Linked DNA regions of Homo sapiens: all the other regions are linked to region 3. The links come from fine-mapping of genetic effects on gene expression. A gene starts in region 3. Each other region holds a variant in brackets. All regions are shown on one strand. Distances are from middle to middle.

Region 1 (6,439 bases), 90 kb after region 3:
GCCCACCACCACGCCCGGCTAATTTTTTGTATTTTTTAGTAGAGACAGGGTTTCACCATGTTAGTCAGGATGCTCTCAATCTCCTGACCTCGTGACCGGCCCGCCTTAGCCTCCCAAAGTACTGGGATTACAGGCGTGAGCCACCATGCCCGGCCTTGGTTTTTTTTTGTTTTGTTTTTTGTTTTTTAAGTTTTAACAAATCTCATTTTTTTTAATGATATGTATGACTTGAAAAAAATTTGAGAAACCTAAACAGGATGGTCAATGGTGAGGTTGTGGTTATTTTTAATTATTAACATTGTTTTATTTTTTAAAGCAATATGGGCTGGGCACAGTGGCTCACACCTGCAATCCAGCACTTTGGGAGGCCGAGGCAGGTGGATCATTTGAGGTCAGGAGTTCAAGACCAGCCTGACCAATATGATGAAACCCCACCTCTACTAAAAATACAAAGATTAGCAGGTCATGGTGGTATGCATCTGTAATCCCAGCTACTCGGGAGGCTGAGGCAGGAAAGTCACTTGAACCCAGGAGGCAGAGGTTGCAGTGAGCCAAGATTGCACCACTGCACTCCAGCCTGGGTGACAGAGCAAGATTCCGTCTCAACAAAAAAAAACAAAACAAAAGCAATATGTATTGCATTTATAACCGAAGAAAAACCAAAGGTGAATCTGATTTCAGAAAAGTAACTTAAGGAAATGTAACATCTAAAAATAAGAGGAAAGTATCAAATCTAAATTTAAATGGGATAATGATAACCCCAGTTTAGTATTTATGGTGATTTTCTTTAAAGAAGAAAGAATCCCTTAGACTTTATGGAGTGCTCTGTGACCGTGTTGAGCTATCTTAAGTGGATCAAAGATGTTCTTCTATTTTTAGGCCTTGTACCTAATAGCAACTAATGGAACCCCAGAACTTCAGAATCCAGAGAAACTTTCCCCAATATTTCGGGATTTCTTAAATCGATGTTTGGAAATGGATGTGGAAAAAAGGGGTTCAGCCAAAGAATTATTACAGGTAAATTTAAAAATGATTTCATTTGGGGGAATAGTTGACTTTTTTGGTAACCGACAGAAAGCTTTCCTAGGGCTAATAAGTAGATTTCACTACTCATTGATCACCAGCGGTATGGCAGCTGCTGCAATTTAGGGTTTCATCCTACCATGCTGAGCAAACTACCGCAAGGACAGAAAACCAAACACTGCATGTTCCCACTCATAGGTGGGAATTGAACAATGAGAACACCTGGACACAGGAAGGGGAACATCACACACCGGGGCCTGTTGTGGGGTGGGGGGAGTGGGGAGGGATAGCATTAGGAGATATACCTAATGTAAATGATGAGTTAACAGGTGCAGCACAGCAACATGGCACATGTGTACATATGTAACAAACCTGCACGTTGTGCGCATGTACCCTAGAACTTAAAGTATTAAAAAAAAAAGTGAGGGTTTCATCTGCTGTGAATAAAATTCTGACAAAACCGTAATGTGCAGTTTGTGCATCGTATCAATCCTCAGACCTGTTTACAGTTTGTGCATCGTATCAATCCTCAGACCTGTTTACAGTTTGTGCATCGTATCAATCCTCAGACCTGTTTACAGTTTGTGCATCGTATCAATCCTCAGACCTGTTTACAGTTTGTGCATCGTATCAATCCTCAGACCTGTTTACAGTTTGTGCATCGTATCAATCCTCAGACCTGTTTACAGTTTGTGCATCGTATCAATCCTCAGACCTGTTTACAGTTTGTGCATCGTATCACTCCTCAGACCTGTTTATTGCTGTTGTGTGTATATTTGTCAAACTAAAATGATTCTGCTTTCATTCAACTCTGAAAGTAATGCGTTGATTATGTTAGTCTTATGAAGGTATTAATATGTGTTTAGTTTATTAAATTATGATCGACAAGTAGTCTTTGGGGCTTAATTGAACAAAATTATTTTGTTTCTAACCTGATGAATGGCACTTATACATTTATTTTTCCCCTTCTTTCTGGCAGCATCCTTTCCTGAAACTGGCCAAACCGTTATCTAGCTTGACACCACTGATCATGGCAGCTAAAGAAGCAATGAAGAGTAACCGTTAACATCACTGCTGTGGCCTCATACTCTTTTTTCCATTTTCTACAAGAAGCCTTTTAGTATATGAAAATTATTACTCTTTTTGGGGTTTAAAGAAATGGTCTGCATAACCTGAATGAAAGAAGCAAATGACTATTCTCTGAAGACAACCAAGAGAAAATTGCAAAAAGACAAGTATGACTTTTATATGAACCCCTTCTTTAGGGTCCAGAAGGAATTGTGGACTGAATCACTAGCCTTAGGTCTTTCAGCAAACAGCCTATCAGGGCCATTTATCATGTGTGAGATTTGCATTTTACTTTGCTGACTTTGTTGTAATAGATCCCATTCATTGTCCCCTTTGGGGTATTTCCAATACTTGAATGGCAGATTGGAGTTTTTCAGAGTATGTGTTTCATCTGCTAGTCTTTCTCTCCTTCATAGCTTTTCTTTTCCTGGACTTGCTCCTTTTGAGTTGCTTTTGCGTTTCTCATGCCTAGGCAAGTGTAATAGAAATTATGTAGCTCCTTATGTTGGCAAAGGAGCTCTATATAGTTTCACTTTGTATAAAAGTTAGGACCAGCTGTTGTTACATGTAATATTTTAGTTCAGAACTTGACCTGAAGGAAGGGAAGAAAAGTATGTGATTTTTACCTTTTTTAACAAATGTGAAAAAGTCAGTTTTAGAAATTTCGTGGTAGTAAGTTCGGCATTTGTTACATGTATAGAGAGAAGACTAATAATCTCTATTTATAACTAAATCATTGAGATAGAAAAAGATTCCCATTGACTGTAGACTTCTTCCCATTTTGTCTTCCCTTCTGCCTGTTTCCCCTTCAGGCTTGGCTCTAGGAACCAAAGTGATTTGTTGTTGTTCCAACCTGGGCTTTGTGACTTTGGTTAGTGCCACTACCTTCTTCCCTCCTTTCCCCCTTCAATTTGGAAATAAATTTCTGTATATGTTGCAATTTTAGGTTTAGGTTTGTTCTTTTTCTTTTTCATTAATCCTCTCTCACCTCACAGATACCCCCTCCCATGGCAAATAATATAATAACCAGTGAATTTTCAGGAATTTAAAAATTAGCTTTTTTCCACTTAAAGGAGAAAAATATTTGGGACTAGCAGCAGAGGCAGTAAGAGATGTGAACCTTGGTGAGCTCTGATACAGTGAGAAGAGATTATACTCATGAAAGAGAATGTTAGTGTTACAGAGAAGCAGCCGATAGCAAATCGACTGTAGAGACTTGGCGGCGGTGGCATTGCCCCAGGTCGTCAGCAGTGTGGTATTATCTATGAGAACTTGAGCGACAGAGTATTTCTTGATGAATTTATAGATCATTTGAGATGTTGAGTTACTTTAGTTTAGTTTTGTTTTGTTTTTTCAAATAAGTAGAGACTATTGTAAAAAACGAGAAAGGAAAATGAAATGTGCGTGTTGATAGCAATAATTTGTTTCTTTTAAAGATTCTAAAAGGTCTGAGACCTGTAGCATTAATTATTTGAGTGCCCTCCCTTCTCCCCTCCCCTCCCTTTTCTCTTCTCTTTTTTCCTCTCCTCTTCTTCTCCTTTATTCATTGTTTTGCTTTTGGAGT[G/A]GGTGTTGTTCAAGTATCTGTGGTTTGGTTCTGGCATTTTGTTCCCACCATCCCCTTCCCCCATTAACTTCCCCCCTGCTTGCCATCCTGCAGTAGTATAAATCATGAATAAAAAATAATTTTGCTGTTGTAGTATACATTGGAGAAACTGGCAGGTTTTATTTCCATTATTTTATTTCCACTATATCTATGATAAGATGCAATTATAAGGAGAGAAGTGACTGTTTTTTATTGATAAGGCAAGATTTTCAGAAAAATGAGTAAAATAATTAATGAAACATATTTAGAGCACTTAATGGTCTCTGTTTTCAATATAATTCTTGATTTCATTTTTCTCTGGAATATATTGGCCTTCTACAGCTATTACTGAATTATAGAAACTGGTTTATTTCTGGCAGAAAGCTGCAGTGCCACCTGAGTTCCAAATTTTACCATTCTTTGTAAACAGTTGGATGGATTATGATAAAGAAGATGCTACCAATGAAATAGAAAACCAACGAGATGAGAAGACTGTGATCCTCATGTACTCAGAGGCACTTCCCTCCTAAGTCAAAGACCATCCTCACTGACTATGTGCCAACGCCTCGTTTCAGGCTTGTGACTCAACAAAGGGCTTTTCCATTGATAGAAGCAGTTTGGGATTTGTAGTTGCGACTTCTTCGATAGTTACCTGCACGTCCATTGCTGGCAACTGACTTGTCATTAAAACCTGGCTCTTTGGTTAAGGGAGCTACGCTGTGGTTTATTCTTAAGTTACGTGGATAAACTAACCTCTAACAGAAATATACTTTGGTTAATTTTGAAATGTGTCATTTTTAAACAATCTTAAAAGTAATACAGAATTGTGATTTATTAATTTTAAAACATTCAGAACTTGTTGAAAGAAAAATTATATCTGAATCAAGATTCATGTTTTTTATTTTTATTTTTTTTGATACAGAGTCTCACTCTGTCACTCAGGCTGGAGTGCAGTGACATGATCTCAGCTCACTGCAACCTCCGCTTCCTGGGTTCAAGCAATTCTCATGCCTCAGCCTCCTGAGTAGCTGAGACCACAGGCACCCGCCACCACACCCAGCTATTTTTTTGTATTTTTAGTAGAGACAGAGTCTCACCACATTGCCCAGGCTGGTCTCCAACTCCTGAGCTCAGGCAGTCTGCCCACCTTGGCCTCCCAAAGTGCTGCAGTTACAGGCGTGAGCCACTGCACCTGGCCTCATGTTTTTTAAATAATTGCCTTTTATATTTACCCTTTTTGTCATCACTTTAGAATGAAAATTCCCATTTAAATCTGAAAGTTACCTTAATAGTCCTCTTGTGTTATTAGGACAGTATTATTATAGTACTTATTTATTTTATTTTAGATTTAAAGTTATCTTCTCTTTTTCTTTTTTCTTCTGCTGCTTTTAGGGACAATTAAAACTGGGAAACTATGAAACATGGAACATTTTATCCTACCTGAAAGTAAACGAGTAATTGTGAAGCATAAGACACTGAGGCTAATACAACTCTGTCTTCATGTGTTGACTGCCTGGCACATAGTATTCATTCTCTTCCCTTTAACATAGAAGTGTCCAGCTGCGTACAGTCTAGTAACCAGCAACTGTAAACGAACCTGTGCCTCTAACAAGCGATTCTAAACCACCTATGAGTATTTCTTTTAGGGCTCACTTAAATACATGTTTGTATATACTGTATTCTAGCCAGAATAATTTTAGATCTGATCAGGTAGTAGCTAAAATTAGAAAAAAACAAAATAGATGCTTAAAGAATTTGCATCCATTTTTGAGTCTAAATCTTTTAAAATATACTGAGATCCACATCTAGTGAAATGTCAGTGTCAAAATATTATAGATTATAGCTAAAATCCAGATTAATACTCATTTGGGGTTTTTTATAGTGGAACTTCATAGTAATACAAAAAGCAGATTGTCTTCCTGTCTCCGCTGCTCCCACAGTAGGTATTGAAACTGGTAAAATCAGTTTTTTGATAGTGTGTGTATATAAGAAAAAATAGATACACACATTCTTTTTTCTCAGTCAACACATTGATTGAACACTCTGGCAAAGATGCTGTGGTGGATGAGGTTGGAGTTCGAAAGAAGAAGCAAGCGCTGGCCTGGCCTTGAAAGAACCGAAGTCTTTCCCATTCACTTCTCTAGAAAGCTGCCAAGACAGAGGCAGAAAGAAATGGATGATAGTTCTGTCAAGCACACTTCTGTTCTCTTAGAACTTAGAAGTGTTTCTAAGAGAACAGAAGTAATAAGAGAAACAGTTACGTGTGGAATTCAACATCTTTGGTTGGAACGCATTGGCTTTTTTTTTCTTGTTTTGATAGAAATGGAATTAAGCAAAAGTAGTTTTTGTCTTTTCTGTTGTCTTCAAATTTTATGCCTTTTATTTTTAATTTAATCCCGTTCAATTATTTAATTGTTATACATTGACATTAACTGCTGTATTTTGACTTTGTTCAATAATTTTGTTCTTTCAGGGCTAGAAATAAACTTTTTAAAAAAAGTGTGCATTTTTCCCTTTCCTAAACTTTTATTCTTTCTTTTGATCAGCGTAAAAGAATATTTTAATGTCTTTTGATAGCATAAAAGAATATTTAAATGTCTTAATAGGTTTTCAAAGAACATTTAGTATTTTTAGTGATAAATGTTTTAAACCTTTTAATGGTGTTGTGCCATCATTTTGAATTTATTACAAAGCTCCAAAGTAGGAAGGTTTCTAGAAATGTGTGGGCAGTAAACATGAAGTTTTCCTTTTTTTTTTTTTTTTTTT
Region 2 (6,439 bases), 100 kb after region 3:
ACCAATGAGTTCTAAGAATATTCAAAGAAAAAATTCCAATCCTGCACAAAGTATTTGAGGATATAGAAAACATTCCCCAAATTCTATTATAAGGATGGAGTAGCCATGATACCAAAATAATTGAAGAAGAAAATTATAGGATAGGCCAGGCGCAGTGGCTCACAACTATAATCCCAGCACTTTGGGAGGCTGAGGCAGGTGGATCACCTGAGGTCAGGAGTTTAAGACCAGCCTGGCCAACATGGTGAAACTCCCTCTCTTTAGCTGGGCATGGTGGCATGCACCTATAATCCCAGCTACTCAGGAGGCTGAGACAGGAGAATCACTTTAACCCAGGAGGTAGAGGTTGCAGTGAGCCGAGATCGTGCCGTTGCACTCCAGCCTGGGCAACAAGAGTAAAACTCCGTCTCAAAAAAAAAAAAAAAAAGTATAGGATAATCTCATAAATACAAATGTGCAATTATTAAATATATTACTAGCAAACCGAATCTAGCAATGTATGAAAGAGGTAGTGCATCCTAAACAAGTAGGCTTATGCATGTAAAAATCAAGATAATTTACAGTATTAGTAGATTATCTGGGCATCTCAACAGATTAAAGAGAGTGGCTGAGCCCAGTGGTTCACACCTGTAATCCCAGCACTCTGAGAGGACAACACAGGAGAATCACTTGAGGCCAGGCTCAAGACCAGCATGGGCAACATAGTGAGACCCTGTCTCTAAAAAACCTAATAAAAAAACATTAGCCAGGTATGGTAGCACACCTATAGTCCTGGCTACTCTGGAGGCTGAGCTAGGAGAATGGCTTGAGCCCAGGAGTTCAAGGTTGCAGTGACCTGTGATTGCACCATTGCACTCCAGCCCACATGACAGAGTGACACTGTCTCTTAAAAAAAAAAAAAAAAAAGCATTGGCTGGGCACGGTGGCTCACGCCTGTAATCCCAGCACTTTAGGAGGCCGAGGTGGGTGGATCACCTGAGGTAAGGAGTTCGAGACCAGCCTGACCAACATGGTGAAACCCTGTATCTACTAAAAATACAAAAATTAGCCGGGCATGGTGGCATGTACCTGTAATCCCAGCTACTCGGGAGGCTGAAGCAGCAGAATCACTTGAACCTGGGAGGCAGAGGTTGCAGTGAGCTGAGACCTCTCCATTGCACTCCAGCTTCGGCAAAAAGAGCAAAACTCCATCTCAAAAAAAAAAAAAGCATTTAGTAAAATTCAGTATCAATTCATGATTAAAAATATATATTTTAGCAAATTAGGAGTGAACTTTTTTTTTCCGAGATAGAGTCTTGCTCTGTTGCCCAGACTGCAGTGCAGTGGCATGATCTCAGCTCACTGCAACCTCCGCCTCCCAGGTTCAAGCAATTCTCCTCCCTCAGCCTCCCGAGTAGCTGGGATTACAGGTGTGAGCCACCACACCTGGCTAATTTTTGTATTCTTAGTAGAGACGGGGTTTCACCATGTTGGCCAGGCTGGTCTTGAACTCCTGACCTCAGGTGATCCACGTGCCTCGGCCTCCGAAAGTTCTGGGATTACAGTGAAGCCACTGTGCCAGCCAGGAGTGAACTGAATCACTTGAACCCGGGAGGCTGAGGTTGTGGTGAGCCGAGATCACACCATTGCACTCCAGCCTGGGCAACAAGAGCGAAACTCCATCTCAAAAAAAAAAAAAAGAATTTGAAAGCAATGGCTGGGCACAATGACTCACGGCTATAATCCCAGCACTTTGGGAGGCCGAGGCAGGTGGATCACCTGAGGTCAGGAGTTTGAGATCAGCCTGGCCAACATGGTGAAACCTGGTCTCTACTAAAAATACAAAATTACCCGGGCGTGGTGGTGGGCACCTGTAATCCTGGAGGCTGAGGCAGGAGAATCACTTGAACCTGGGAGGTGGAGGTTTTAGTGAGCCGAGATCACGCCACTGCACTCCAGACTGGGCAACAGAGTGAGACTTGGTCTCGAAAAAAAAAAAAAAAAAAGGAATTGGAAAGCAAGATAAAATCTCATTATTTTCAGATAAGGTTGATATGATAAACTATTAAAATTAAGAAATTTAGCAAGTTTGCTGTATGCAAAATCAGTGTGCAAGAGTCTATTATATTGCTAAGCACTAGCAACAAATAGAACACATAATCTTAAAAATCTACCATTTATAACAGATCAAAAATACAAAGTACCTAGAAATGGTCACTCCTGTAATCCCAGCACTTTGGATCACCTGAGGTCAGGAGTTCCAGACCAGCCTGGCCAACATGGTGAAACCCCATCTCTACAAAAATACAAAAATTAGTTGGGCATGGTGGCGTGCGCCTGTAATCCCAGCTACTCAGGAGGCTGAGGCAGGAGAATTGCTTGAACCCAGGAGGCAGAGGTTGCAGTGAGCCGAGATCGCACCATTGCACTCCAGCCTGGGGTGATGGAGTGAGACTCTGTCTCAAAAAATAAATAAATAAACAAAAAGGGAGGATTTTACTGAAAGATTTTAAATGTTGGATTGGAAACTATTTTATGGATAGTTGAAATTGCACTTCAAAAGAGAAACAATTTAATTCAATTTAAGCCAGATAAATGAAACATTGGTTCAAAGTCAGAAATACATAGTCCTCTAAATTTTAGTATAAAGAGACACTTTACAGAAGCCATAAAGTAGCCTGTAGAGGCCAGCACCGGGGCTTATGCCTGTAATCCCAGCACTGTGGGAGGCTGAGGTGGGTGGATCACCTGAGGTCAGGAGTTCAAGACCAGCCTGGGCAACATGGTGAAACCCTGTTTCTACTAAAAATACAAAATTAGCCGGGTGTGGTGGCGCACTCCTATAGTCCCAGCTACTTGGGAGGCT[T/C]AGGCAGGAGAATCGCTTGAACCCAGGAGGTGGAAGTTGCAGTGAGCTGAGATCATGCCATTGCACTCCAGCCTGGGCACAAAGAGTGAAACTCCATCTCAAAATAATAATAATAATAATAATAATAATAATAATAATAATATTCAAAAAGGAGAATAGTTGGGAAGCCTATAAATTTCAGCCTATCCTAATTCAGGGATCCTGCTTCTAGGAGGAAGAAAAAAAGGCATCCAATAGAGATGAATGAACGTTGTATACCCCCTTTGCCTCCTTTTCAGGATAATTTAGTGCAAACTTTAATACTCGCCATTCAGATGCTCTTCAGTCATAACTCCTAAACATGCTGAGGGCCTGTTGTGTGTCTGAATTAGTGGATAGGGAAATGAGGCACAAAAGGCAATTTTGAAGACTGGCCTCTTTCAGAATTGCAGAGTTTGGTGGACTTTATTTTTTTCTTTTTTTGGGGGGTGGGGGGCGCAATCTCACTCTGTCACCCAGGCTGGAGTGCAGTGGTGTAATCGGCTCACTGCAAGCTCCGCCTCCCAGGTTCAAGCGATTCTCCTGCCTCAGCCTCCCCAGTAGCTGGACTACAGGCGCCCACCACCATGCCTGGCTAATTTTTGTATTTTCAGTAGAGACGTTTCAGCATATTGGCCAGGCTGGTCTTGGACTCCTGACCTTGTGATCCGTCCGCCACAGCCTCCCAAAGTGCTGGGATTACAGGTGTGAGCCCCTGCACCTGGCCTTTGGTAGACTTTATATTGAGGAGCTTTTGTGGCTGAGTAAACTCTGGACTTTTGGAAGGAGAAGAGGTAGAAAGGTGTTCATGGAAAGGGACCCAATCCCCCAGGAGAGGGTTCTTGGACCTCATGCAAGAAATAATTCCAGGGGAGTCCACGGAGTAAACTGAAAGCAAGTTTATTAAGAAAGTAAAGGAATAGGGCCGGGCGGGGTGGCTCACACCTGTAATCCCAGCACTTTGGGAGGCCGAGGCAGGCGGATCACCAGGTCAAGAGATCGAGACCATCCTGCCAACATGGTGAAACCCCATCTTTACTAAAAATACAAAAATTAGCTGGGAGTGTTGGCATGCGCCTGTAATCCCAGCTACTCGGGAGGCTGAGGTAGGAGAATCACTTAAACCCGGGAGCAGAGGTTGCAGGGAGCCGAGACTGTGCCATTGAGCTCCTCCTGCCTGGGCCACAAGAGCAAAACTCCGTCTCAAAAAAAAAGGAAAAGAAAGGAATAGAGCACGTCTGCTCCATAGGCAGCGCGGCAGCTTGGGCTGCTTGACTGAATATACTTACAGTTATGCTAAACAAGGGGTGGATTGTTCATGAGTTTTCCAGGAAGGGGGTGAGCAATTCCCGGAACTGAGGATTCCTCCCCTTTTTAGACCATACAGTGTAATTTCCTGACGTTGCCATGTCATTTGTAAACTGTCATGGTGCTGGCGGGAGTGTCCTTCAGCAGCTAATGCATTATAATTAGCGTCTAATGAACAGTGAGGACCACCAGAGGTCACCTCATTGCCGTCTTGGTTTTGGTGGGTTTTGGCTGGCTTGGTAACACATCTTGTTTTATCAGCAGGGTCTTTATGACCTGTATCTTGTGCTGACCTCCAGGCCTCAGCCTTATTTTAACCAGTCCTTATTCAAGATGGAGTCACTCCGGTTCAAACACCTCTGACAAAGGGATAAAGAAAAACGTGGTCTGCAGATTGTTGCAAATGAACCTAAGCCAGGTTTGATCATGCCTCATTTTTGTTTGGTTGTTTTTTTCCTTTTTTTTTTTTTTTTTGAGACAGGGTTTCACACTGTCACTCGGGCTGGAGTGCAGTGGTGCGATCTCAGCTCACTGTAAACTCCACCTCCCAGGCTCAAGTGATCCTAACACCTCAGCCTCTCAAGTAGGGACTACAGCCACCACACCCGGCTAATTTTTGTGTTTTTTTGTAGACGGGTTTCACCATGTGACCCAGGCTGGTCTTGAACCCCTAGCCTCAAGTGATCCACCGCTTCAACCTTCTAAAGTGCTTGGATTACAGGTGTGAGCCACCTCACCCGGACATGCTTAGGTTGTTTCTGTAAAGTTATAGCTACCTATGGAGTTTGAGGTGGTGAGGGTTAACTAACTTCTGACAACCCCCCTGCCAGATTATAATGAAAGCAAGTCGCAGACCAAATCTTGTCACACACCTGAAAGCTCATTTAAGCAAACATTTGTCAGCAAAAGTGTTTGTTCAGCCTATCCTGTAGCTCACTATAATCCATGCTCTCTGTCCCAAATGCTCTGTCCACAACTTTGCATGAAAAGTTCACTTGAGGCAGAGAGGGAAACGTGCCAGGGGCCAGGATTCTGTTACCCTTAAAGATGGCATCATGTAACCAGACATCCTCTTAACTAGTGGCTGGTCACAGGATTATGTAACGATGGAGCCCTGAGGGCCATTCCTAAGGGGTCGCGTTGCTGACCTCACTAGATTCTTACACCTTGTTTATGCAAAGGCAGCAGGAGTCTCTCAAATAACTTTAGCCAATGGAAGGATCCCGAACACCTTTCATTTCACTGATGAGAGCCCACTGATGACCTCATTACCAATTAACAAGCAACTCAGTTCATCAGGAAACAGCCATTTCTTTTTCCATTTATTTATTTATTTATCGAGACAGTGTCTAGCTCTGCTGCCTAGGCTGGAGGGCAGTGGTGTGATCATGGCTCACTATAGCTTTGACCTCCTGGGCTCAAGCAATCCTTCCAGTTCAGCTTCCTGAGTAACTGGGAGCAGAGATGCTCGCCACTACAGCTGGCTACTTTTTTTATTTTTTGTACGGATGGGGTCTCACTATGTTGCCCAGGCTTGTGACTGCACAATGGGTTCCCCTTGCCCGTTGCCTAGGCAGAACTGATACCTCACGACAGGGGAACTGCAGTACAGAAAGAGTAATTCACGCAGAGCCGGCTGTACAGGAGATCGCGGTTTTATTATTATTCAAATCAGTCTCTCCAGGCATTGGGGGATCAGTGTTTTTAAGGATAATTTGGTGGGTGGGGGAAGGCCAGTGAGAGAGTGTTGATTGGTTGGGCCGGAGAGGAAATCATGGGAAATTGAAGCTGTCTTCTTGCGCTGAGTCAGTTCCTGGGTCGGGGCCACAAGATCAGATGAGCCAGTTTATCCATCTGGGTGGTGCCAGCTGATCCATCAAGTGTGGAGTCTGCAAAGTATCTCAAGCGCTGATCTTAGGAGCAGTGTAGGGAGGGTCAGAATCTTGTAGCCTCCAGCTGCATGGCTCCTAAACCATCATTTCTAATCTTGTGACTAATGTTAGTCTAGTCCCCCGGCAAGAAGGAGGTCTGCTTTGGGAAAGGGCTGTTACCGTCTTTGTTTTAAACTATAAATTAAGTTTCCCCCCAAGTTAGTTCAGCCTACGCCCAGGAATGAACAAGGGCAGCTTGGAGGTTAGACGCAAGATGGAGTCGGTTAGGTCGGATCTCTTTCACTGACTCAGTTACAATTTTGCAATAGCGGTTTCAGGCTGATCTCAAACTCCTAGGCTCAAGTGATCCTCCCGCCTCGGCCTCCCAAAGTGTTGG
Region 3 (6,439 bases):
TTCTCCTGCCTCAGCCTACCAAGTAGCTGGGACTACAGGCGCACACCACCACACCCTGCTATTTTTTATATTTTTAGCAGAGACAGGGTTTTGCCGTTGTTGGCCAGGCTGGTCTTGAACTCCTGATCTCAGGTGATCTGCCCACCTCAGCCTCCTAAAGTGCTGGGATTACAGGTGTGAGCCACTGTGCCCAGCCGGTAGCTGTACACTTCTAAGCTTGGTTATTTTCTCTTGGTACTTTGAAAATATACCATTATTGACTGGCACCCGTTTTGCTGTTGTGAAATCTGCTATGAATGTAATAGTTGTTTGTACAGAATGTCTTTTCTCTCTGGTTGCTTTATCTCTGGTATTCTGCGGTTTCATTTTCATGTGTTTGAAATTTCTTTACTTATCCTGCTTGGTATTCAGTTTGCTTCCTGAATCTGAAGATTCCTGTCTTTAATCAATTCTGGAAATTTTTCAGCCATTATCTCATCATTATCTGCCTCTCTTGGTTTTTCTCTTTTCTCTCCTGGAATTCTCATTAGGAGTATGGTAGAGACCTTAACAATCTATCCCCATGTCTCTTAAGCTTGCTTTCATTTTTCCTGTCTCTAGGCTGTTCTCAGTAATTTCTTTTGGTCTGTCTTCCAGTTTACTAATTTTCTCTTCAATTGTGTGTAATCTGCTATTTAACCAAACATTGGCTTTGGTTTCAGTTATTCTTTGTTTCTAGAAATTCTACTTAATTCTTTTGTTGTTGTTGTTTTTGTTTTGAGACGGAGTTTTGCTCTTGTTGCCCAGGCTGGAGTGCAATGGCATGTTCTTGGCTTACTGCAACCTCCACCTCCCAGGTTCAAGTGATTCTCCTGCCTCAGCCTCCTGAGTAGGTGGGACTACAGGTGCCCACCACCACGCCTGGCTAATTTTTGCATTTTTAGTAGAGACTGGGGTTTCACCATGTTGGCCAGGCTGGTCTCGAACTCCTGACCTCGGGTGATCTGCCCACCTCGGCCTCCCAAACTGCTGGGATTACAGGTGTGAGCCACCGCGCCTGGCCTACTTATTTCATTTTCAAAGCTGTTTGGTCGTTAAAAAAAAAAAGCATCTTGTTTCTTGCTCGTGTTTTCTAGCTCCTGTCTTACTTTCTTTAATCATTTAAATAGGCGTACTGTATATTCTGTAGCCATCAATTCCAGCAGCTAAAGTCTGTGTGGGTTTCATTATGTTCTTTGTAGTTTCTATTGACTCACTCATCGCTGCTTATTTCCTCAGGTGTATTGTATTTCGGGTGCTCATGTTTGGCTTCGGAAATCCTGTTTATCTGTGAAATCCTTTGAGACCGAGGTTGAGGGTACACCTGTGCAGTCAGGATTTGTATTTGTTTCTTCCAGGCCCCCCAGAACTCCAGCCTGGGACCACTTTCTTGACAAATTTGAACTTTAAAACCTTAGTGAGGGAAAATTCTAAAGGGTTATTAATTCTAAAGGGAAAATTTTCTTCTGCCCTGCAAGCCCACTGCAGGCCAAAGTAAACAAATGTCCTGTGTGTCTCCCTGGGCTAGCATAGGGTTTTTTTTCCCCCCAGTCTGTTCTTGGAGGGTATAGCGCCTTGAATTTCCAGTCCTATGCAGGATCACAGTCCTGACTTCTTGTATAGGCCCAAGTCCTTGTCTTTAGTTTCCTGTGCACCTATTAAAACTCTAGAGATTTCTGAGATAAGTAGGTGCCCTCAACACAACCATGGCTTCACTGCCCTGCTTACCACTCTGGTGTCCTGCCCCTTCTTCAGGTTGAGTGTGAAATTTGGAAGACTGTCAGAAACATTCTATTTTCATTCTTGCAAGTTATGCCTTTGAAAGGATGTCTTATTTATCCAGTGTTTCTGTGTGTTTAATAATCAGAGCATTTTTCAGGTTATCTCTTACTGTGCCATGTTGCTCCTTGATTCCTTTCTCTCCTGTACCCACTGCATCAATTGAGTTTTTTGCTCTACATTGATAGAGAAGCACAATTCCTCTTTCTTTCCACTGCCTTCCTACTTTATTTCCCTTCTATTCTTGCATCTCTATACTCCATTATCCACATTGCAGTCTAGTGATCTTAAAGTGTAAGCCAGGTAACATCGCTTTCCTGCTTAAAAAAGCCTTTTAATGGTTTTTTGTAATATAGACTTTTTACCATGGCATTCAGGATCTTTCATGACCTGAATCTTGTCTGCTGTAGTGTTTTCTTAATAGTACCGCCTTCTTGTTCTAGGCCCCAGCTACACAGGCCTTCTTAACTGACCGTAGCAAGCCCTTTTCTTTCTTCTCCTGCCTGTATTGCTTTTCTCTGGGTGCTTCTTATTGCTGTCTCTTTCTGTTCTTGCCTTAAGTGTCACCTCCTTAACGAGGCCTTCTCCGACCACCCTATCCAAAGTAACCTCGCCAAGTTTTTTCTTATACCAGGTGTGACTACTTTAATTACTGCGTCCTCATATAAGCTCCACAAAGGCTTGGTGAATCGTGTTCACCCTTGCATTTCTTTTGTGTTTTTTGTTTTGTTTTTGAGGCATGACGACTCTGTCACGCTGAAGTGCAGTGGCCCGATCTTGGCTCACTGCAGCCTCCTCCTCCTGGGTTCAAGCGATTCTCCTGCCTTAGTCTCCCGAGTAGCTGGGACTACAGATGCGTGCCACCATGCCCAGCTAATTTTTGTATTTTTAGTAGAAACGGGGTTTCATCGTGTTGGCCAGGCTGGTCTCGAACTCCCGACCTCAGGTGATCCGCCTGCCTCAGCCTCCCAAAGTGCTGGGATTACAGGCGTGAGCCACCGCACCTGAACCACCCTTGTATTTCTGATGCTTAACAGTGTCTAGTCCATATCAGACACTCAAATATTTGTAGAATAAGTGAAACATTGATGAACTCCTCCGTGGATAAAATAGGGAAGTCTTAATTTGCAAGGAGGTGATACTTAATTTAGCAGCAAAATTTTAGTTAAGAATTTGTAAGCAAAAAAGCAAAATGGATAACGGATGAATTCCCAGAAACAAATGTCGCGGAGCAGATGTGTATAACAGCAATCGTCTGTCAGCGTCTTCCGTCGGCAGAGACCTGCTTGGAGACAATGCTGAATTAAATGAGGGACTGGCTGCTCCTCTCAATACAAAGACTACCCAAGGAATAAAAGCAACGTCTATCACCGAACTACTACTCCCAGCGGCCCCCGCGCGGGCCTGCCCATGGGAGGTGGCGCTCGTCTCCGCCCCGGGGAGCTCCGGCTTCGGGGCGGGAGGGGTTCTGGGTTCTGGCCCCGCCCCGCCCCGCTCCCCGCCGTCTTCCTCCCCCAGGGTTGTGGCCACGCGCAGCGGCGGCGGTTGTTCCGCTTCCCCTCCGGCCCGGGCCGTCGCCATTGCCGAAGGCTCCCTCCCCTCCCCTCCCTGGCGTGCGCAGGACTCCGCCGCCGCTGGGCCTAGCGGTAGCAGCGGCTGCTCCAGCGCGGCGTCTCTTCCCGCCCCGCTTCCCCTTCCCTCCCCTCCCCTCCCCGCACCGCGCGCTAGCCCGGGGCGGCTCCGCAGCCCGCCGGGAGCTCTGACCGAGGCGCCTCGCTGGGGCGGGGACCTTGCCTTGCCCGGGGTAAGTGCACACAGGCCGGCCGGCGCGGGACGCAGGCCGGGTCTCTTCCTCCTCCTTCCTTCTCCGTGGCCTGGCGGGCGGGAGCGGCCCGGGACGGCCGACCTGCCCCGCGCGGGGCCGGGGAGCCGCCACCTGCGTGCTGGGAGCCGCAGCTCCTGGGGCGGTGGCTCATTGTCTGCTCCCCAGGGCCGTTTTCTTCGCTGGCTTTAGCCAGAAATGGGAAGCTCGCTGGGCTGCGGAGGTCTGACTCTTCCTGGACCCAGCCCTGCTCTGAACCTCGCGGCACCACGGTCTCTGCCGACTCTCGGTCTTCCCTCCCCTCGCGTTTCACCCTCTTCCTTTGCTCCGTTTTCTTAATGCTGGACCAGACTCTCCGGTTTTGTTCCTTGATTTTTCCTCTCACTGATTCTCAGCCCCTGCTTGCTCGCTCTCTGTTCACCCGTTTCACTGCTCAGGAATATTGTCGCGAGTAGCTTGACTGTTTTCTCAGCTCCAGCCTGTAACCTCTTTTCCACATTCCACATTGGTAAAAACGTAGAGCGTCCCGGGCGCTTGAGGGCCACCGCTTACGAACTGATCTTTCGGAGCTTCTCCTCGCTCCTGTTTGAGCTTCAGCCTAGGGGTGAAATTTGCTTCTTTAGATAACTTAGGTGAAGTTAAGATTGGTTTTTCACCATGTTTGGCTCTCTTGGAAACACACGCACGCACAAACACAAAACGTTGCCACTCAACCTTTTAACTAATTCTTTAAAGATAAGTCATCCAAGAACAGAAGCGTGTCATCGTCAGTGGGTGTGAGGTTGTACCCATCCTTGTATCTTAATTTTAGTAGTACTCTCCCTGGGCAGTGTGAGCGTGATTTGTTGTCCCTTGATAAATAACGAACTCCGGTTGATATCATTATCTCACTTCTGCGTTACAGGCGATGTGTCCTTTCTTTGTTTTCTTTTTTAACCTTTATAAAAAGACAAAATGGTTAGGCCTAAAATTAAACTACGAAGAGCTGTGTTTTGGATCAAGGTTGTGCACGTCACGTTTTTTCCCCTGCTGTGTTCGACTCTTCCGCTCTTATAAGTAGGCAGGATATTGAAATGTACAAGAATTTGCTCTGGGGATTTTGTTTTTGTAGGGTTGTCCAATAGAATAACACTCAGTAAAGTTACATTGGGATGAAGGCAGTGAATAGTAATTTTTAAAGCAGGTTAAAACTTGTCAACTTTGCCAGAAGGTCTGTGGCTTCTGTAAAGCCCACTCATGCTCGTGTATATATGAAGAGCCTTTTTCATGTTCTGTTAGGAGTATGGATTTCAGGCAACTTTTTCACTGTGTCATCCTCGGCTATTAAATCTTTCGAGCTACTTATTAGCCAAGCACATTGATTGACACTTATTACGGAAAGTGAACCTGTAATAGATGTAGGTCTTAAACCAACTTTCCGATTTGGTAACAGGTTGACCTAAATTCAGTGTATTTTGTGTTTTCACTAAGTAGCCCATTGTTACCTTTCCCTCCAGCAAGGCTCTGAAAAAAGTGGCTCCAATACTCAGCTTCAATACTGTCATCATTTCTTAAATAGTAGTATCAGTTGTCCTTAACTTAATGGATGTTTTATTGGCCTGAGGGATTAAGGTGTAGAAAGGTTGGAGTTTTGTTGGAGTTTGAAACTTGGTCTGTAGATGTTGGCTTCTCTGCCAGTTTCTTCTAATCAGCAGATATTTTTATGAAGGAAGAGTTCCTGGGTATTTCACTTCCCTTAGGGCCTTGGTTTATGGTTTACTCTCATTCAGAGAGAGATACTATTCTGGACTCCGTGCTATTTAATACTAACCTTGCAAACCCAAATTCAAAATTAAGTTTATAGTTCGAGTATACAGGCGATAGGGCTCTCTGATCTTTATGATAGACAGGTTCCCAAGTAGATGCGGTTAACAATTAATATTTCTTTTTTTTTTTTTTTTTTGAGACGGAGTTTCAGTTGCCCAGGCTGGAGTGCAATGGTGCGATCACCGCAACCTCCGCCTCCTGGGTTCAAGCGATTCTCCTGTCTCAGCCTGCTGAGTAGCTGGGATTACAGGCACGCGCCACCACGCGCGGCTAATTTTGTATTTTTAGTAGAGATGGGGTTTCACCGTGTTGGTTAGGCTGGTCTCGAACTCCCGACCTCAGGTCATCTGCCCGCCTCAGCCTCCCAAAATGCTGGGATAGGCGTGAGCCACGGCACACCACCAACAGTTTCTATTTCAATTATACTTTTTAAGAGAGACTAGAACTTGTTCAGGTAGCTAAAGATAAACTTTCAATTATACTTTTCTAATATTTAAGAACTTCAAGTAGCCAAGGATAAAATGAGTAGGAATTGTTAGATTCTTCCTTTTATCCATCAAAATCGATTATTATTATAATAATATTTGAGTATATTTCTTTTGGCTTTCTGACTTTTACACTTTTGGTTAAAATTTGAAACTGGGTCTTCTTCGCCGGGCGCGGTGGCTCACGCCTGTAATCCCAGCACTTTGGGAGGCCGAGGCGGGCGGATCACGAGGTCAGGAGATCAAGACCATCCTGGCTAACACAGTGAAACCCCGTCTCTACTAAAAATACAACAAAAAATTAGCCGGGCTTGGTGGCAGGCGCCTGTAGTCCCAGCTACTCGGGAGGCTGAGGCCGGAGAATGGCGTGATGAACCCGGGAGGCGGAGCTTGCAGTGAGTCGAGATCGCGCCACTGCACTCCCGCCTGGGCTACAGAGCGAGACTCCGTCTCATTAAAAAAGAAAAAGAAAAAGAAACTGGGTCAACTTCAAGACTTTAAGTCGTAAAGGTTTCCATCAGTTTGGTAT
Region 4 (6,439 bases), 65 kb after region 3:
GGGGGTGTCTCTTCTGCCTGTGCTCTGTTACTCAGGCCTGCCGTTGGTCACTCCATGTGCCTCCTCAGTGTTTGGTTGTGTCCAGCCCTACTCTATGGCAGGACAGTCTGCTTTACTTCATTTACTAGTTTCCTATCAGCCAGTTTTTAGGGGAAATCTTTTCTAGAATAACTTTGATTCTAGTGTGTTTTCTAGAATAACTTTGATCCTAATATGTTTTAGGAAAAATATAAACATAATATGCCGGGCATGCGGTGGCTCACATCTGTAATCTCAGCACTTTGGGAGGCCAAGGCAGGTGGATCAGGAGTTTGAGACCAGCCTGATCAACATGATGAAACCCTGTCTCTACTAAAAATACAAAAATTAGCCGGGCATGGTGGTGGGCACCTGTAATCCCAGCTACTTGGGAGACTGAGGCAGGAGGATGGCTTGAACCCGGGAAGCAGAGGTTGCAGTCAGCTGAGATTGCACCACTGCACTCCAGCCTGGGCAACAAGAGCGAAACTCCATTTAAAAAAACAAAAGACAAAAAATAAAATTATAAGTGCCTTTACTAGTCTTGTTTAAATAGGCTGATTCTTTCTCTTTTTTTCTAATGCCCCCTAGGAAGTAAAAAGAAAGAAAAGGAACGGCCAGAAATTTCTCCTCCATCTGATTTTGAGCACACCATCCATGTTGGCTTTGATGCTGTTACTGGAGAATTCACTGTAAGTTAACCTAGTTCGGGCCCATTTATAACGTTTAAAATAGCACTCAAACATTTTCCTTCATTATTAAATTTGAAATTAACATTTCAGGCCAGGTGCGGTGGCACACGCCTGTAATCCCAGCACTTTGGGAGGCCAAGGCTGGCAGATCATTTGAGGTCAGGAGTTCGAGACCAGTGTGGCCAACATGGTGAAACCCCATCCCTACTAAAAATACAAGAAAATTAGCCAAGCGTGGGGGTGTATGCCTGTAATTCCAACTACTCAGGAGGCTGAGGCAGGGGAATCATTTGAACCTCGGAGATGGAGGTTGCAGTGAACAGAGACTGTGCCATTGCACTCCAGCCTGGGCAAGAAGAGTGAAACTCCGTCTCAAAAAAAGGGAAATTAACATTTCTATCTATACGTTAACTATGAATTCTTACTGCTTTTTGCTTTTTATAAAAGTGTTAGTGGTTGGATATATCGTTTTCCTAGAGAGCAGAGCCTATTAATTATAGTTATGCAAAACAGACTTAGAAAAAATAGACCTAGGCCGGGCGCGGTGGCTCACGCCTGTGTAATCCCAGCACTTTGGGAGGCCGAGGCGGGTGGATCACGAGGTCAGGAGATTGAAACTATCCTGGCTAACATGGTGAAACCCCGTCTCTACTAAAAATACAAAAAATTAGCCAGGCGTGGTGGCGGGCACCTGTAGTCCCAGCCACTCTGGAGGCTGAGGCAGGAGAATGGCCTGAACCCGGGAGGTGGAGCTTGCAGTGAGCCGAGATCTCGCACGACTGCACTCCAGCCTGGGTGACAGAGTGAGACTCTGTCTCAAAAAAAGAAAAAAGAAAAAATAGACCTTTAGAAAATGAGATCTTTTAAAATTTACTCAAACCTACACTCAAAAGATTGGTTTGTTTTGTGTATTTTGTCATTTATCTCTGGAAATTAATTTTATTGCATCAATTTAAACCATAACTAATTTCTGAATATCTTCTTGTTAGGGCATGCCAGAACAGTGGGCTCGATTACTACAGACCTCCAATATCACCAAACTAGAGCAAAAGAAGAATCCTCAGGCTGTGCTGGATGTCCTAAAGTTCTACGACTCCAACACAGTGAAGCAGAAATATCTGAGCTTTACTCCTCCTGGTAAGAGAGTGGCATAAGGCTGGATCAGATGGAGATTTGTGAAGCACTTCTAGATAAAAAGATTACTCCTGGAAAAATGAAAAGCTAAACTATGGTTCTTGTTGATAACGGTTTTTCCCTGGATAGATTCTACCTTTTGTAGACTGATCCAGGGCAGTTCTGAAGCATAATTTGGATCTGTGAATTATAGTAATCTCATAGGTTTGCCAGAAACGGGAGTTGATGGATATTTTGGCTTTTTGTTTATTTGGTTTTTTCTCCTCATTGCTGTGTTTTTGTTTTCATTTTTCACTCTTCACTGCTTTTAAATGACTTCCAGCAATCAAAGGAAAAGACGCTGGTTGATAGACATGTTCATACTAGAAACACATTTATTGTTAGCGGGACAAGAGGAGGTTGAACTAAAAAATGTTTAGGTCCACTCAAAAAATTGAAACTCGCAAGTGTGCAGATAATAGAATATATGTATTTTAATATATAAAACAGATAAATCATATACGAAAGAAGCGTTAGAACTAAAAGGATTTATACCTCAGAAATGGAATATCTGGAATATCATCTACATAGTCACAGTAATGCAAATTTTACTTTCTGGATGAATATAGCTGGATGGAAATGGGGTTTGATGTACTTTGTTTTCCAAGTTGCTCAGTATCTGAGATATACCGTTAACCTATGAGAGAACCAGTGAATTGGTATATAGTGTAAGAGTTGGTGTAGTGGATTTTTAAAAATAGTTTTTGTTCAAATAAAGATCAGAATAAAGTTCATACAACGCAGTTGGTTGATACATCTCTTGAATCTCTTTTGATCTTTAGGCTTCCCCTCCCACACACTGGTTCATGCTGTCTTTTCTTGACGTTTATTTATTACAGAAACAAGATCATTTGTCCTGTTTCCCTCAGTTTAGATTTTGCTCACTACATCCTCAGGATGTCATTTTTCAATATGTTTGTCTGTCTCTGAAGTCATACATGTGGTTTTCAAAAGCAATATGATGGAGCTAAAATCGTACATGTGGTTTTAATTGATTTTACTTACTGTTTGCATCCTCACAGAAACAAAGGCCATGTGCAAGGGAGAAATAGAAATCTTTTTCAAGTGATCTTGACCTTTTTTTGTTGAGTCTAGTACACCGTTAGGAAAAGGTCACACTTGCTCCTAGAACTTTTCTATCAACCAGTAAGTCTGTGTGTAAATTAGTAATTTTTTTGAAAAACCAATGTTTGACCACAAAATGGTAGCTTATTTTCACCTAGTACACATACATACATATATGTGTGTGCGCACGCGCGTG[CGTGT/C]GTGTGTTTTGTTTTGTTTTTGAGCTGGAGTTTACTCTGTTGCCCAGGCTGGAGTGCAGTGGCACAATCTCGGCTTGCCAGAACCCCCGCCTCCCGGGTTCAAGCAATTCTCCTGCCTCAGCCTCCTGAGTAGCTGAGATTACAAGCATGCGCCGCCACACCTGGCTAATTTTGTATTTTTAGTAGAGACTGGGTTTCTCCATGTTGGTCAGGCTGGTCTTGAACTCCCAACCTCAGGTGATCTGCCTGTCTCTCGGCCTCCCAAAGTGCTAGGATTACAGGCATGAGCCACCGCGCCCGGCCTGTGCGTATGTAATATGTGATATGTGTGTGTGTGTGTGATATATATATATATATATACACATATATATATATATATACACACACACATATACACACACACACACATATATGTATGTCTCTGGGCATTTTTAAAAGAAAAACAAAACAATGTCAGAATTTTACTTTGCACAATTGTCATTGTCTTAATTGTTGCATTAAGTTCCTCAGTCAGCAGTTTTCTGGAGAAAGTATCTTTATCAATAAATTTGTTTTGTTTTAATAAATACAGATTGATAGGTATACTTTCAAACTAAATTTTGATAGCTTTATTGAGGTATAATTTACATGCAATACAATTCACCCATTTTAAATATATAATTCACTGATTTTTACTAAATTTATAGTTTCATGTAGATTTCAGATTTCTTACCTTGGTCTTATATAAATTCTTATTTGACTACTTGCGTGTTCATTTTTCTCAAGAGTTAATTCAACTTGAAATCAGTTTAAGAACATTTCACTTTCTCTGCTTTTTTTTTTTCCTTTTATCATATAAAAGTGCTGTTTCTTGAATTGCTAATGTTATGTTTTGTTTCATATTCAGAGAAAGATGGCTTTCCTTCTGGAACACCAGCAGTAAGTTAATTATATTATTTCTTGTATCTCTTGTTCTAATTTAGGTTACCCAAGACAAATCTCAGTTTTTATTTTGCTTTCTAAAATAAATTACAGCCATCAGAGGTAAATAACTACTCAATAGGTGTTTTTAGCTAGCCACCTGATTAGTTGAAGAAGCCGTATTAAATAGAAATTCCTTGATGTGATACTTAATGTAACTAAAATTTATAATGACCTTCAGAACAGTTTAGTTAGTTTTGGTAATGTTAACATATACAAACGTGAACACAAAGAACTTGCTAGCATATATTTTCCTCTCCATCCCTCAGTTTTCCTTCTGGTACTATTTTACTGAATATAGACTGTGGAAAGGTGCTGAACAGTTGAACCTTGTCAGTCTTCAGAGTCATCTGAAACTTAAGTTATCGCATAAACACAGTCAGTTTTTGGAAACAGTCGTTTTATTTGCAGTTTCTCAATTGGGAGGAAACAGTCTCCTGGAGTTTTATTTTTTTATATTTTATTTTATTTTATTTATTTATTTATTTTATTTTTATTTTTTTTGAGTTAGAGTCTCGCTCTGTCGCCCAGGCTGGAGTGCAGTGGCGCAATCTTGGCTCACTGCACGCACCGTCTTCTGGGTTCACTCCATTCTCCTGCCTCAGCCTCCCGAGTAGCTGGGACTACAGGCGCCTGCCACCACGACCAGCTAATTTTTTGTGTTTTTAGTAGAGACGGGGTTTTACCGTGTTAGCCAGGATGGTCTTGATCTCCTGACCTTGTGATCCACCCACCTCGGCCTCCCAAAGTGCTGGGATTACAGACGTGAGCCACCATGCCCGGCCCCAAATCTGACTGTTTTAAATGTCACCAGATGTCTCTGACATAACAAAGCCCAGAGGATCTTTGATTTTGGTCTTAACAAGTAACATTGTTTACTTTCAGGACATTGTATATGTATGCTTAGGGTAACTTTATTAAAATATTTGGTACTCACCATATATATATATTTCATAAACTTTTTCATGATTCATAGAATCGCCTTATTATGTTAGATTATAATTCTATTGAGTTATCTAAGAGCTAATGAGATTTAGTGGTTTTGAAATGAGCTATCAAAGAAGCAAACTTTTTGAAGTACGTTCATAAAGGGCGATAGTCGCATTTAAGCCTATTGGACTTGTTTTCCTTACTTTGCTCATCATCAATGCAGCTGAATGCCAAGGGAACAGAAGCACCCGCAGTAGTGACAGAGGAGGAGGATGATGATGAAGAGACTGCTCCTCCCGTTATTGCCCCGCGACCGGATCATACGAAATCAGTGAGTCTCCATCGGTGATCTAGGCTGTGTGTGTGCACGTGTGTTTTAAAAAATAGCAGAGTTTGTATTTGACTTTCAGTGATTGCTTTTAAAAAGCCCTCAAGTTTAAAATCGTTTAGTATGGGGAAATTTAACCAAGAAATCTGTACCCAAAGACCACTCACCTAAAACTAGTTTTCTGAAGATTAAAATGTGATGTCTTTAAAAGTTAACGCACTCACCTCACTGGGCTTTTTTCTTTGTATAGTACACCTTTTCCAGAGGGTTCGTCTATTTCCCAAGCTTTCTCTGTTTATCTCAATGTAGATGACGACTAAATCTAAAACTTAGAGCTTTCCTCTTACCCAGATTATGCATTTTAATCTCCCATTTTACACTACTCTCAGCGCCTTGCTGTCATTCAAAAGGCAGTTGAGAATGAAATTCCTAACCAGGTAAGGGAGAATTTTAAAAATGATGACCTTAAATGGAGCCAGGAAGAGAGGAATGACTGCGGTTACCATTCTGCTCCCTTCAGTACTGCAGGTAGAGTGTGCGGAAGGTGCTGTGCCGTGGAATGGGCTGTGCTCCTGGCACAGCGGGCAGGCAGAGCTCAGGAGACAGCCTCTGGATGCCAAGCTGATGGCAGAGGACTCCGTTTTCTTTAGCCTTTCAATCTGGCTGTTTGAAATGGGTGGTAGGCATTATAATTGTGTAAAAACTTTCATGGGAATTAATAATAGTTATTTCAACATCAAGGTTTCTGTTCTTTTGCATTTTACTTACCATTTGTAGTAAAAACATGATTTTTAAACCGTGCTTTTTGATACATTGTTATACCATTTTAGACCTGGTCACACTTAAATTTCATTCATGGACCTGCTGTTTTACTAGACAGCTTTTCAAATATATTCATGCTATGCCAAAGAAAAATGTTTCACATTTATTCTTCTTAGTTACACATCTTTTATATCTGAAAATAGTGTTCTCATTATTTAGAACAATGGAAAAGACTACTTAGTTCAGGTTAAAAATCAAAGAACTGAATTAGTTTGCCAGGAAGAATATCTGAAAACATTATTCCTCAAACC
Region 5 (6,439 bases), 51 kb before region 3:
AGAACCATGTGGGCAGTGGCGAGGCTAAAAATAAAATGTGCAAAGTGTAAAACAAAAACCACGCAGTGTCTTCCTTGTCATGCACAGCCGCGTTCGAATCGCTCATTGTCTTGCCTCCTCAGTGCTTTCTCCCGCCCACGACTATCAGTGGTCCAACCACACATTGCAGGAAGTTCCAGGAGTCATCCACTTACCCTAGAGCAAGCTTGTCCCACCTGCTGCCCGCGGGCTGCATGTGGCCCAGGTGGCTTTGAATGCAGCCCAACACAAATTGATAAGCTTTTTTTTGTGACTTTTTTTTTTTTTAGTTCATCAGCTATCATTAGTGTTAGTGTATTTTTTAATGTATGGCCCAAGACAATTCTTCTTTTAATGTGGGGAGAAAAAAGATTGGACACCCCTACCCTAGAGGAATGATAGTGTTTAGTATTTGTTTTCATTCTTATTTTCCTTCTCCTCTATATCGCATGGATTGTGGAGCGTGTCCATGTCTTCAGGTCATCAGCATGACTTTTAGGGGAGGTGACTACAGAGTCAAAGCCATGGGAGATGCGGAATTCAGCTGAAGATCACTTAAACATCCAGCACCGCTGTAGCACTAGTCATAGAAAGAATATGAAGAGAATTCAAGATTAAACAGATTGGCCAGGCGCGGTGGCTCAGGCCTGTAATCCCAGCACTTTGGGAGGCCGAGGCAGGCGGATCACCTGAGGTCAGGAGTTAGAAACCAGCCTGGCCAACATGGTGAAACCCATCTCTATTAAAAGTACAAAAAATTTAGCCGGGTGTGGTGGCACATGCCTGTAATCCCAGCTACTCGGGAGGCTGAGGCAGGAGAATCGCTTGAACCCGGGAGGCAGAGGTTGCAGTGAGCCGAGATTGTGCCACTGCACTCCAGCCTGGACGACAGATCAAGACTCTGTCTGGAAAAAAAAAAAAAAAAGATTGAGCAAAGCAGTCAATAGATTAATTGGATTTAATTAAGTGATGAAAGAATTGAGTAATGGAACTTCACCCATTCTAACCATGTGATAAAGTAGAAAAGGTTCAAAGATTTAGTAGGGGTTTAAAATGAGTTTAAGAGAATGGGATTACAATTCCAATCCCATTGGTAAGACAAATTTTATTTCTAAAAATTCATGTATTTCCCCCCTTTATACAACTGCAAATGCGAGTTTGGAGCTAGAGTGGGAGAGGAAAGCAAAGAATGAAGGGAAAGAAATAGGAGGAAGATTCTAGAAATGGGGGCAGCATGGGAGAAGTGGTGGGAGCAAAGTCCTGGCATATAGATGCCACAATCAAAACTTCTGCCCTGTTTCCTAGCTGCTTGGTGTCAGCACTGGGGCCATTCCCCCAGCCTGTGACCTTGGCATCCCCTATGTTGACCTGGGCTCTTCCTCTGTCCTTCCACCTGGATGTCCTTTAGTGGGTCCTGGCCAGGGTCCTATTGCTCCCTTTAACCTCTGGAGCTTTTGTCTGCTACATTTTCTTACACTGATGCTGACTCAGACCTAATGCTGGGTGAAGTTGTGATGTGGCTGAAGTGTCTGGGTGTAATTCAAGAATCCTCGAGGGAGAATCAGGAGTTTTGGGTTCCGGTTCCAACTTGGTAATTTACCAAGTCACAGCCTCCTGGAGCCTGGTTTTCCCTATCAATAAAATGAAGAAATCTGTCTTCTCTAGTTCATAAGTTGTCAAGATCAAATGTGTAAATACATAGGAAGTTCTTAGGAAAGGGAAGGCTTCTATCACTGTAAAGAAGTATCATTGATAACTAGTATATGATAGTCTGCTGCCGTCTGCCTTCCCCATATGTACCCTATCATGCTCTGAGTCCCTCCTTCCTGCCTTTTCCCCATCTCTTATCACAACCTGCTTTTTGTATGTGATTGCTATTTACACCTTGATAATATTAAATCAGAGATATACACAATTAAATTTGAGATAGTTACGCCTTGTCCAGAAATATTCACATATTAAGCTTGATCGCTATTTGGGTGGTAAAAAGTTAGTCCTTGTTCAAGAAATGTTAACCAACAGTTTGGGGTAGGAGGGAGAAGTGAGGCTTTCCTTGTGTTCTGAAATCACTATATTTCATGCCTGAATTAGCCTGTCTGAGCTGGAATTCAGAGTGAATCTTTGGATCCATGTTTTAAAGGGACAACTATAGAGACTCCCATTGCTTTTTCTATGCACATAGTTTTTGTGCGGTTTTTACTGGAATCTTATTACAGTTACAGTTACCATCCCATGGACCAACATGGTCCATCGAGGGCCTTGCAGTGAGAGGGTCAGTCCATAGATGCTGGAGCCACATGACGTGGGTTCAAATTTCAACTCTCCCACTTATTAGTGTGTGACCTTGGACAGGCTGCTTCACTGCTCCGGCCCTCAGTTTTCTAATTTGCAAAATGGGGGAGATTAATAATACCTATCTCCAGAGGTTTGTTGGGAGGATTAAATAATAGGCCTAAAACACCTAGAGCAGTGTCTGGCACTGAGTACACATTAGCTGGAATTTATTTCAATTGCATGTTTGAAAAAATTTAAACCATTCAGAAATTTAATTTTAAAAATAAAAAATGAAAAGTCACTTAAGCTCTCTATCTCCCACTTTAACCCCACTCCTCTTTCCACAGGCAAACTGTTAACAGTCACTTTGCACACATCATTCAAGAGTTTTGTTTTGTTTTTGTTTTTGTTTTGAGACTGAGTTTTGCTCTTGTTGCCCAGGCTGGAGTGCAATGGTGTGATCTCGGCTCACTGCAACCTCTGCCTCCCAGGCTCAAGCGATTCTCCTGCCTCAGCCTCCCGAGTAGCTGGGATTAAAGGCATGCGCCACCACGCCCGGCTAAATTTTGTATTTTTAGTAGAGATGGGGTTTCTACATGTTGGTTAGGCTGGTCTCAAACTCCTGCCCTCAGGTGATCCGCCCGCCTCGGCCTCCCAAAGTCCTGGGATCACAGGTGTGAGCCACTGCACCTGGCCTCATTCAAGAGTTTTTACTGATATATTTTTTAAATCAAAGAATTATAATATACTATTTGGCAACTTGTTTTCCTCACTTAACCATGTAGCTAGGAGTTATTTCCAGGTCACTATGCCCAGTGCTACCTTCTTCTGCCTAAGGGTTTCATAGTATGCCGCAGCATGGACACTGCGCAATTCACTTAACCAATGTCTTATTGATGGATATTTGGAGTGTTTCCAGTTTTCGATATTTGGAGTGTTTCCAGTTTTCCACGATCATATTCGCTTTTTGCACATTCTTTTCTCTTTATAATTCAGAACCATCAAGCTGAAGCCCAGCAGGGCTTCCTCATTTCATCATCATAGCTCATTTCCTATTGAGCAAAGCTTCTTCCTCGGGTCAGCTCTTGCCACACTTCTTTCTACAGAAACAA[G/C]AAGTGGAGTTATCTGTCCTGGGCTTCGGGAGTGAACACACCCATTCCCACGCTGCTGCTGCCCACGCTGCTTTGCCCACACAGCACCACTGTCCCTGGGGATCCTGAATAACAATCTGCTGAGCAAAATCAACATCCCTTTGGCTACAGCGAGGCTAATTGCACTTAATAGGTTGTAAGAGTTCTGGTACAGACAGGCTCCTTCCCATGATGTATTTCACCACCTCATTGAAGAGATGTGTGTTCCAGTGAGAGTCTGTTCCTCCGTGTCATCCCAACAAATGCTCCTATGTCCAGGAGCCATTGTCAGGAATGCTCGTTCCTCTCCCTTCTACACAGACAAATCTCCCTTTGAGGACACACTCAACTCCAACTCCTTTTGTGAAGCTTTCCCTGTTGCTCCAGCCTGCATGAATCCTTCCCTCCGCCGAATTTCTTCAGCAAGAATGCCTTCTAGGCCAGGCACGGTGGCTCATGCCTGTAATCCCAGCACTTTGGGAGGCCGAGGCGGGCAGATCACCTGAGGTCGGGAGTTCGAGACCAGCCTGACCAACATGGAGAAACCCTGTCTCTACTAAAATACAAAATTAGCTGGGTGTGGTGGTGTGTGCCTATAATCCTAGCTACTCAGGAGGCTGAGGCAGGAGAATCACTTGAACCCGGGAGGCGGAGGCGGAGGTTGTGGTGAGCTGAGATGGCGCCACTGCACTCCAGCCTGGGCAACAAGAGCGAAACTCCATCTGAAAAAAAAAAAAAAAAAAAAAAAAAGAATGCCTTCTAAGTGCATAGCACCTGTGTGAGGGTGAAACCCTGGCCCACAGAGCCAGTGGTCGTAGGATAGTTAAAATAGAAGGCCACAGTATATTGGGAGGCCAAGGCGGGCGGATCACGAGGTCAGGAGATCGAGACCATCCTGGCTAACATGGTGAAACCCCGTCTCTACTAAAAATACAAGAAATTAGCCGGGCGTGGTGGCGGGCGCCTGTAGTCCCAGCTACTCGGGAGGCTGAGGCAGGAGAATGGCGTGAACCTGGGAGGCGGGGCTTGCAGTGAGCAGAGATCGTGCCACTGCACTCCAGCCTGGGCGACAGAGCAAGACTCCGTCTCAAAAAAAAAAAAAAAAAGGCCATAGTATATCAGAATTCCATAGAAATAAGATTATTACAAAAAGCCTATAAGCAGAGAGACACTGGAATATACTGAAGCTAGTATGAGCAAAAGGGAATTGTGGGTTGGAACACCAATACCCACAGCAACAGTGAAGGAAAGCAAAAGCCTCGCACAGCGCTTCTCAAAGTGTGGTCTGGGGGCTTGTTAGAAATGCAATTTCTTGGCCAGGCGCAGTGGCTCACACCTGTAATCCCAGCACTTTGGGAGGCCAAGGCAGGCGGATCACCTGAGGTCAGGAGTTCAAGACCAGCCTGGCCAACACGGCAAAACCCTGTCCCTACTAAAAATATAAAAATTAGCCAGGCGTGGTGGCACACGTCTGTAATCCCAGCTACTCAGGAGGCTGAGACAGGATAATTGCTTAAACCTGGGAGGTGGGAGTTGCAGTGAGCTGAGATTGCGCCACTGCACTCCAGGCTGGGTGACAAGAGCGAGACTCTATCTCAAACAAATTAAAAAAAGAAAAAGGAAAATAAATGCAAATTCTTAGGCTCCACCCCAGACTTACTGAATCAGAAATTCTGGGGGTGGAACGCAGCAATCTGCGCTATCGTGAGTCCCACAGATGAGTCTGGTGCATGCTGAAGTCTAAGAACCACTAGCTTGAGTAGAGATTCAAAGTTTGGGTCTCTAGCACAGAAAGACTTTTGCAACAACGAGTCTCGGGAGGCGTAAAGCAAGCAGAGAGGACTGCAGCTGTTAAAAGTAGTCCTAAGAAGATTCTAGGTAGGAGAACTCAAGCGTGGGGAGCTGGGAAACCCCAGCTGGCAGGGAGGGGTCCTACCTGGCGAGCTGCCCCCCAAGGGCCTGCGCTGGTCAAGTGTCTCCCGAAGGGTCTGCCTGCGGGCAGGAGAAACACAGGTGTCCAGGACTAGTGTTCTGACTGATACGTGGCCCTAGGATTTCTCTCCTGGGACCACTTGGAGAGGCAACCCTTGGCTGCCAGAGGAAGAGACTGATGGAGGCAGCAGGACGGGAGGAAGGCCTGTGGGAGGAGGGTGCCAGAGTGGGAAGGGAGCATGTGAGGAGAGTCTTGATGGTTAATGCCAATTACCTCTAGAAAATTACCAGGCTTTACAGACTCAAGAGCTACTACCCAAAAGATTGAAAAAACTGCCTTAAAAAAAAAAAAAGCAACCCACCCCAGGGAAGAGAGAGAGCTATTTAGAAAACTCCAGAAGTAAATAAGCTCAGACAAATCTGAGATTTATCTGGTCTCTGCTCCTGAGTCCTGTCTGAGAATCAGGCACCTAAGAGACGGGGTGTTGTGTCCACCAGAGACGGTGGAGAGGCCGGGCACGGTGGCTCACACCTGTAATCCCAGCACTTCGGGAGGCCGAGGTGGGCAGATCACCTGAGGTCAGGAGTTCAAGACCAGCCTGGCCAAGGTGGTGAGACTCTGTCTCTTCTAAAAATACAAAAATTAGCCAGACTTGGTGGCGCACACCTGTAATCCCAGCTACTCGGGAGGCTGAGGCAGGAGAATCGCTTGAACCCGGGAGGCAGAGGATGCAGTAAGCCAAGATCACGCCATTGCACTCCAGCCTGGGTGACAGAGCGAGACTCCATCTCAAAAAAGAAAAGAGATAGCGAAGAAAGCCATCATCTCTGGTGGTTTGCAGGTTTGATTTTCATAGCAGAACCCTTAATGAAGATCTCAAGTAGAACTCTGAAATGGGAAAAACTTCAACATGTAAGAATTGAGCTGCTGTGGATAAATTAGGAGTCCAGTTCCCACCTCCTTATTCTTTTTATCACTCAGAACAATGACCACTTTTACACCCGACCCCAACCCTAGCTCCCCAGGATGCTGCTCCACAGAAGGCAGCTTGAAAAACGCCAATGGTTAACCTCTCTGGTGCCTT

Evidence for each region.
Region 1: its variant is fine-mapped to the expression of PAK2 in whole blood (TOPMed, PIP above 0.99).
Region 2: its variant is fine-mapped to the expression of PAK2 in whole blood (INTERVAL, PIP above 0.99).
Region 4: its variant is fine-mapped to the expression of PAK2 in whole blood (TOPMed, PIP 0.98).
Region 5: its variant is fine-mapped to the expression of PAK2 in whole blood (TOPMed, PIP above 0.99).

Annotation. Positions count from the first base shown.
Region 1 is chr3:196,826,317-196,832,755 of GRCh38, forward strand. PAK2 (p21 (RAC1) activated kinase 2) reads left to right here. Exons shown (of 15, transcript NM_002577.4): 14 at 880-1,017; 15 at 2,003-6,331. The coding sequence ends at 2,089. Among named protein-coding and RNA genes, the nearest start is that of SENP5, 38 kb to the right of the region's middle. The variant G/A (reference allele first, on the strand shown) is at 3,656.
Region 2 is chr3:196,838,657-196,845,095 of GRCh38, forward strand. No RefSeq gene overlaps it. Among named protein-coding and RNA genes, the nearest start is that of SENP5, 26 kb to the right of the region's middle. RefSeq lists a silencer at 3,343-3,497. The variant T/C (reference allele first, on the strand shown) is at 2,846.
Region 3 is chr3:196,736,557-196,742,995 of GRCh38, forward strand. It overlaps PAK2 (p21 (RAC1) activated kinase 2), which reads left to right and starts at 3,301. Exons shown (of 15, transcript NM_002577.4): 1 at 3,301-3,601. RefSeq lists a silencer at 3,092-3,881.
Region 4 is chr3:196,801,318-196,807,756 of GRCh38, forward strand. PAK2 (p21 (RAC1) activated kinase 2) reads left to right here. Exons shown (of 15, transcript NM_002577.4): 3 at 610-710; 4 at 1,700-1,847; 5 at 4,035-4,066; 6 at 5,262-5,369. Among named protein-coding and RNA genes, the nearest start is that of SENP5, 63 kb to the right of the region's middle. The variant CGTGT/C (reference allele first, on the strand shown) is at 3,145.
Region 5 is chr3:196,685,080-196,691,518 of GRCh38, forward strand. No RefSeq gene overlaps it. Among named protein-coding and RNA genes, the nearest start is that of CEP19, 24 kb to the right of the region's middle. The variant G/C (reference allele first, on the strand shown) is at 3,405.